2 linked regions of the Homo sapiens genome follow. The protein of the gene in region 2 purifies or fractionates together with the protein of the main gene of each other region. This does not show direct contact. Each region holds a gene or a part of one and is shown on either strand. Other genes may lie near its edges.

Region 1 (3,749 bases), on a different chromosome or scaffold from region 2:
CAGCACTTTGGGAGGCCAAGGCGGATGGATCACGAGGTCAGGAGATCAAGACCATCCTGGCTAATATGGTGAAACCCCATCTCTACTAAAAGTACAAAAAATTAGCCGGGCATGGTGGCAGGCACCTGTAATCCCAACTACTCGGGAGGCTGAGGCAGGGATTGCAGTGAGCCGAGATCGTGCCATTGAGCCACTGCGCTCCAGCCTGGACAACAGAGAGACTCCATCTCAAAAAGAAAAAGAAAAAGAAAAAGAAAAAAAGATATAGTCTACGTCAAAGAATTTCTCCTCCAAACAAAAACCAATGAATATAAGTATATGTCTTGTTTTTAAATGATACCACCAAAAAAAAAAAAAAAAACATCATCCAGATTCACCCCAAGTTGAGTTTGCCTTCGGTGAAAACCTGGGCCATATATTATTTCTGAAGTTCCTTCCACTGTGCAGACTCTGTCTCCATGAGACACTGTGCAGTAAAAGACAAAATTTACTAGAATCCCCCTACTGCTGTGCCTCTTAGAAACCTAATAGTGGCCCCCAACATAGAGAACAAGAAACTGCCAAGTTACCCTGTAAGGGTACAAGAGAACCAAACAGCACCCTCAGAGTATCTCTAGGCATCTTAACAACCTCTTTAGGAATTTCTACAAATTATAGAATAGATAAGGCATTTAATCAATTCATCTGCAGTGACACTTCTTACTTTGATATTTAACTTTTAATGAGTGAGTATACCATTTATCAAACTAGATTATAAATTCCTGATGGGTAAAGACTGGTTTATTCCCCTTTTTATCTCCAACTATCTGTGCACATAATATATACTTGTTAGAAAAAGGTAGAAAGCCGGGTTCGGTGGCTCATGCCTGTAATCCCAGCACTTTGGGAGGCCAAGGCGGGTGGATTACCTGAGGTTGGGAGTTTGAGACCAGCCTGACCAACATGGTGAAAGCGGTACCTACTAAAAATACAAAAATTAGCCGAGTGTGATGGTACAAGCCTGTAATCCCAGCTACTCTGGAGGCTGAGAGAGGAAAATCGCTGGAACCCAGGAGATGGCGATTGCACCGAGCCAAGATTGTATCACTGCACTCTAGCCTGGGCAACAACAGCGAAACTCCGTCTCAAAAAAAAAAAAAAAAGAAAGAAAGAAAGAAAGAAAGAAAGAAAGAAAGAAAGAAAGAAAGAAAGAAAGAAAGAATAAAAGACTGTAGGGTGGGCCCGGTGGCTCACACCTACAATCCCAGCACTTTGGGAGGCAGAGGCAGGTGGATCACCTGAGGTCAGGTGTTCAAAACCAGCATGGCCAACATGGTGAAACCCACTATCTACCAAAAATACAAAAATTAGGCCAGGTGCGGTGGCTCACACCTGTAATCCCAGCACTTTGGGAGGCTGAGGCAGGTGGATCATGAGGTCAGGAGCTCAAGACCATCCTGGCTAACACAGTGAAACCCTGTTTCTACTAAAAATACAAAAAAAACAAACAATTAGCCAGGCATGGTGGCACACACCTGTAGTCCCAGCTACTTGGGAGGCTGAGGCAGAATTGCTTGAACTCGCAGTGGGTTGGGGGGGGCCCAGAGGTTGCAGTGAACCAGGATCACGCCACTGAGACTCCGTCTCAAAAAAAAAATAAATAAATAAAAGGCTGTAGAAGACAGCTAGATGTGATGGTGAATCATGGTAGCGATAGCAAATTAATTTTTCTTTCCCAGTTGCATAATCTTTTTAATACCATTTAATATTTATTACTTATTTCCTCTCACAACCACTATGTAGTTTCCAAGTAATAAATTTCACTATGGACGTCACAGCACTCAGATAAAGAATTTCTGAAGGATTTCCTTCTTTCTTTTTTTTTTTTTTTGAGACGAAATCTCACTCTGTCACCCAGGCTGGAGTGCAGTGGTGCAATCTTGGCTCACTGCAGCCTCTGCCTCTTGGGATCAAGTGATTCTCCCACCTCAGCCTCCAGAGTGGCTGGGATTACAGGTGCCCGCCACCACGCCCAGCTAATTTTTGTATTTTTAGTAGAGAACGGGTTTCGTCATGTTGGCCAGGCTGGTCTCGAACTCCTGACCTCAAGTGATCCACCTGCCTTGGCCTCCCAAAGTACTAGAATTACAGGGGTGAGACACCACGCCCAGCTGATCTTTAAGTTACGTTAACCACATTTTTAAAAACTTTTGAGGCCAGGTACGGGGGCTCATGCCTGTAATCCCAGGACTTCGGGAGGCCAAGGTGGGTGGATCACCTGAGGTCAGGAGTTCAAGACCAGCCTGGGCAACATGGTGAAACCCCATCTCTACTAAACGTACAAATAATTAGCCGAGTGTGATGGCACGTGCCTGTAATCCCAGCTTCTCGGAAGGCTGAGGCACCAGAATTCCTTGAACCCAGGAGGCAGAGGTTGTAGTGAGCCGAGATCGTGCCACTGCACTCCAGCTTGGGCGACACAGACTCCATCTCAGAAAACAAACAAACAAACAAACAAAACACAACTTTCAAGGCCAAGCATGGTGGCTCACACCTGTAATCCCAGCACTTTAGGAGGCCGAGGCGGGTGAAACACTTGAGCTTAGGAGTTCAAGACCAGCCTAGGCAACAGGGTGAAACCCTGTCTCTATCAAAAATGCAAAAAAAAATTAGCCTGGGGTGGTGGCACGTGCCTGTAATTCCAGCTACTGGGGAGGTTCAAGCAGGAGGATTGCTTGAGCCTGGGAGGTGGAGGCTGCAATGAGCCAAGACACTGCCACTGCATTCCAGCCTAGGGGACAGAGCGAGACCCTATCTCAAAAAATACAAATAAATACAAATAAAAATCAAGAAAAGAGTTTTTTGAAAAATTAAAAATTAAACACTTGTTTTTTTGTGTATTATTTCAACTACCAGAACACTTATCTGCCATTATAGAAGCACTCTAATAAAGAGGGGTCTAAATTCAAATTACAACTTCTCTTTAAGTATTAACTGTTCTAACCTCACACACTCAAGGTAACTCAAGGTAGCAGATGCAATGAGCATTTCTGTTTCTTAGTATTGCTCTAATAAAAGATATGAAAAACAGCCTGGTGGTGGCAGCATAACACAGTTTCTGAGGAAAGGTATAAAACACAATGAAAACCCCAGGAGAAACATTAGAAAAAATGTAACCAGTAGGAAAATACAGGTGATTCCGAGCAATTAAAAACATTCTAATCAAAACTTCTAAGTGAAGAAAATAGCTTTAGTCAAATTCCTAGATACAGGAGTGATGTGCTATAGGGAGAAATGAGCACAAACACTAAAACACACCTCTACCTGATTCTTTAGGTGATGTTTACCTAGCAAACATATTGAAAATGTTTATTTATAATACAGTACATACATCTGCACTCTCTTGAACACCTAATATTGTGTCTCCCATTGCTGGCGTGCAATGTTTACTTACTGAATGATTGAATAAGGTAGTTCCAGAAAAAATATACATGTGGCCGGGCGTAATCCCACCTACTCAGGAGGCTGAGGCAGGAGAATCGCTTGAACCCAGGAGGCAGAGGTTGCAGTGAGCTGAGATCTCGCCACTGCACTCCAGCCTGGGCGACAGAGCGACACTCCATCTCAAAAAAAAAAAAAAAAAAGGAAGATACACATGTGTTCTGTTAAGTACTTTGTCTTTGGTAATTTACAAGTTTTGTTTTTTTTTTTTTTAATGAAAGCAGAGGAATCTTACAAAGTTCCTGTTAAAGTGGGTAATTCTAGGTATA
Region 2 (3,749 bases):
CCCTGCCCAGTCCAGCTCCACGCTTTCCACATTGAACACCTGACCCTGTGTCCTGACCCCCATCCCAATATTATCTGAGGCTGCTCAGATTCTCAGTCTTGCTGCACACGCACACACACACACACCCCTACCCAGCTGCTTATCTCCCAAACCAGCTCTCTTGTCCCTCCATTCTTTCTTGAGTTCATCCCATGACATCAACACACCCATATGTCTGGGATCCACATCTTTGCAGCCGTCTTGACAACTCTTCAGCCAAAAGAGGCCCTCCTTAGTCCTTCACCGGGGTTTCCTGATCACTCTAGCTGAGTTCTTTTTCAGCTCCTCCATCCACTTTCCTCAGGCCTGAACTCTTCTCCTTCCACATCAGCCCTTCCCAGCCGCTCCACCCCTCCAGCCTGGCTTAACTTCCCCCAGCCTCCCAGCCCACCCCGAAGCCTCTTCAGCCTGCCCGACCCCTCACCCTTGTGCAGCCCGGTGTACTTGTCCTTGATGACAGTCAGCTCAAAGATCCGACCAAACTGTTCGAAGATGGGCTTCAGGTCCTTCTCCTCCAGATGCCTCGGGATCTGCCCCACAAACAGCTTGATGGCATCCGGCTCCTTCATTGAGGCGGCCCAGGAGGAGGGGCCGAGGGGAGCAGGGAGAGGCCCAAAGGCCAAGGGGAGCTGCCCAGCAAGGAGATAAGTGGTGGGGCCCGGGGGCCCAGCTGGGGCTGGCTTTCCCTTTGGCCCCCAACCACGCTGCTAAGCAGAGGGGCGGCTCTTCACACAAAGGAGGCCCAGGGAGTTGAGTGCTAGGGGTCAGGGGTCTAGGCAGACGCTGTCATGCCACCAGGGGGCATCGCCTAAACAAACGATCTCCCTCCCAGAGATCTGGCAAATGTCCCAGGATGGGGGTGAGTATGGCCAAGACCTGGAGGGTTAGGTGGTAGCCGGGGGTGCTAGGGCTTAGAGGGCTGGGAACTGGGAGTTGAGATGAGAGCTGGAGGCGGGGAAAGGGCCTGAGGAGGGTGATGGGGAGGAGACTGAGGGGTTAAGGGGCCTGCTATGGTTGCCAGCAGCGTCAGTAAGGGGGGCCCACTCCTGATGTGGGGCAGGTGAATCTCTCGTTGGCTTCCCTGGGAGGACACCTCCCCTGTGGCGGATCCTTCTGCTGGGTCCGAAGATCCCTGATGCCAGATGCTTGATCTCTGATGGCGGCAGGGCTCCAGGGGTCCCTTTTGCCCTGCCGCCCCCCTTCAGGTCCTCCCCTCAGCCCCCCTCCCACCCCCACCCCAGTCCCCGGGCCTGGGCTGCTGCCGGCTGCTCCCGCCGCTGGGGCTGCCTGCTTTCCCGGTCACCTGGGTCCCGGAGCTCTGCTCTCCGGCCGCGCTCTCCTCAACAAAAACCTCCCCCCTCCACACCCCCCTCCCCACTCCCACCTCCTTTCCCCTGACATCAGTGATGTCAGTCTCAGGGGTCGAATACAAATTCTCTACCCTGGAGAGGGACGCACAATCCAGGCACGAGCCACGCCCTCTTTCTATCTCCATCCTCCCTGACTCCCTTCCCGCCCCCAGAAGAGCAGCTGGTCCTGTTGATAATAACCCTTCCCCCATCTTACTCCCCAGTCAGGAGTTGGGCAAAGCACTAAGATGGAGAATTTATAGAGGAACCCTAAAGTGGGGTCCATTGTTCCGGGGGCTGGAGCTGTCCCCGGTGCTGGAAGACTCAGCAGATGGGGGGTGGCGGGGAAAGAGGGGAGCCCGGCATCTGGGGAGCCCCAAGAGTAGAGAGTCAAGGAAAGAAATCAGGGGAAAGAAAAATGAGAAAGGACGGTTGCATAGGCTGAAGGGAAAGGAGATATAGATGGAGAGGGAAGCAGGTCGCAGAGTCTGGGGGAAAAAGAAAAAATGCAGAGAGGAAAAATGGAAAGGGACGTGGAGAAGGAGGAGCAGGATGAGAAGAATGCAGAAAGAGAACTGTATATTTTCCAGAAAAGGAACCAAGAAAAACGATAGCTTTCTGGCATTTGCCGATGCCCCCTTCTCTCCCTCTGGGGGGTTTGTGTGTATAAGTGCGTGGGCAGGGAGGCCGCGGAGGCGGCGCCGCGGGCGCTCTCACTTGTAAGCTCCTTGAAGACCAGGACACCGTTTAATTCAGCATCTTACTGTTCACAGTGTCTAGCACCCTGTCTTGCTCATGCGTAGCAGGAGCTTAACAAACACTCCATGCAAACAACCTCTGACAACAGTGGATTCCTGATTCCTTCAGTGGGAAGAACCACAGCTGTCAAGCTTCCCCTTAGGATGCAGAAACCCAATTACTCTTTCCTTTGCTTCTTTCTTCAGTTGGGTTCTTTGAGTTGGACTCAAATTGAGCCAGGTAGCACAGAAGAGCAGGGGAGGCACATTCGGGGACCATTGCTCCCCTGACCATGGATACTTCTATGGATGATTGGCAGGCTCCACGATCTGGAGGGAGCGTGACCCCTCCATGCACTGGGCCCACTCAGAGCACGCCCTCAGTGCAGGGATTATCTGTGGACATCAAACCTTGTCAGTGGTGGTAGCCCTTGCTTTCTGTCAGTGCTCAGCAACGGGGGCTCTCCTGGGGCTCTGGGCTTTTGTAGAGCACCCTGTCTTCCTGTCATTCCCTTCTTCTCCCCCGGGGTAGGGCTGCTGTTTCCACAGAGGCACTCGTGTCTCTAAACTGTGTCCCAGCTGAGTCCCAGGGGCCTCCATTCCTGAGCTATCACGGCAGGCAGGCTTCTCTTCTGGAAGGGAAATAATAGTAACAGCCAGTGCTTACATGGCTCTTACAGTGTCCCAGGCTTTGTGCCAAGTGCTTTATATTTACTAACTCCTAAACCCTCACCACCCCCCTATGATGTAGATTTTGTCATCTCCAAATAGAGAGGAGGTAACCAAGACACAGAGCTGAAATAACTTGCCTAAAGCCATGCAGCTAGAAAGAGGTCTAGCTGAGACTGGAGCCTGGGCAGTCTGGCTCCTGAGTCCACGCATTTAACTCCCACATCAAACATTCCTCTTGAGAATGGGAGCAGTGGTGAAGTCTGGCCTTTCTTCCTCTTCTGTCTCCATTTAAGCCCTGGATGAGAGAGAGTCTTTCTTTTTACTGCTTGATTCTGTGGACCACCTCCCATCCTTCCTTAGCCTGTTTTTTTGTTGTGGCCTGGAGCCACGCTCTGGCAGGTGCTTGCATTTGAGTGAATGTGTATGTGTGTAGACTTGATTACACTTCATCACATGGATGCCCGGGTCCCCCAAGTAGGGTCCCCTAAGATGGGGTGGCAGTGGGGGGAGGTGCTAGAGGACTCAGTGGTGGGTGCTCAGAAGAAGCGAATGACGGCAGAGCCAGGGAATCAAGAAGGGCACACACATCTTGAAAGTAACTTTCCACTCACCTACCCCACCCCCACTGCTCCTTTCCTTGCCTTCTAATCTGATCTTGGTATTTATGGAGATGCTAAACAGATCATGTCCTCTGAGGATGGAGAAGGGGAAGACCCTATGGCCCTGTTGATCTCATTACTCTATGTCTTCTCAGCAGATCTGCCGCCCTGCTGCTCATTCAGGCTTGGGGCTAATCATATTAATTGAAATATTAAACATTCACAAAAATGAATTAAAATGAACTCCCCTCACTCCTCCTCCCAGTCAGTAATTGGGGAGACAGCTGCAGACAGCAAAATGCGTCCAGTCCTTTGCTTAGTTTGTGGTCCCCAAAGGTGTCAGTCTGAGAGAA

The links. The genes of interacting proteins can lie anywhere in the genome.
Region 1: the proteins of CELF3 (region 2) and MKRN1 purify together in Homo sapiens (affinity purification with mass spectrometry; 2 studies listed by BioGRID and IntAct, with this or other methods). This does not show direct contact.

The regions. Positions count from the first base shown.
Region 1 is NC_000007.14:140,472,867-140,476,615, forward strand, and holds part of MKRN1 (E3 ubiquitin-protein ligase makorin-1), read right to left. Parts: intron 1,624-3,749; exon of another isoform or gene 1,515-1,623; intron 962-1,514; exon of another isoform or gene 909-961; intron 1-908. UniProt on the Homo sapiens protein: E3 ubiquitin ligase catalyzing the covalent attachment of ubiquitin moieties onto substrate proteins. These substrates include FILIP1, p53/TP53, CDKN1A and TERT.
Region 2 is NC_000001.11:151,715,413-151,719,161, forward strand, and holds the start of CELF3 (CUGBP Elav-like family member 3), read right to left. Parts: upstream 1,392-3,749; 5' UTR 609-1,391; coding exon 464-608; exon of another isoform or gene 211-463; coding exon of another isoform or gene 207-210; intron 1-206. UniProt on the Homo sapiens protein: RNA-binding protein involved in the regulation of pre-mRNA alternative splicing. Mediates exon inclusion and/or exclusion in pre-mRNA that are subject to tissue-specific and developmentally regulated alternative splicing.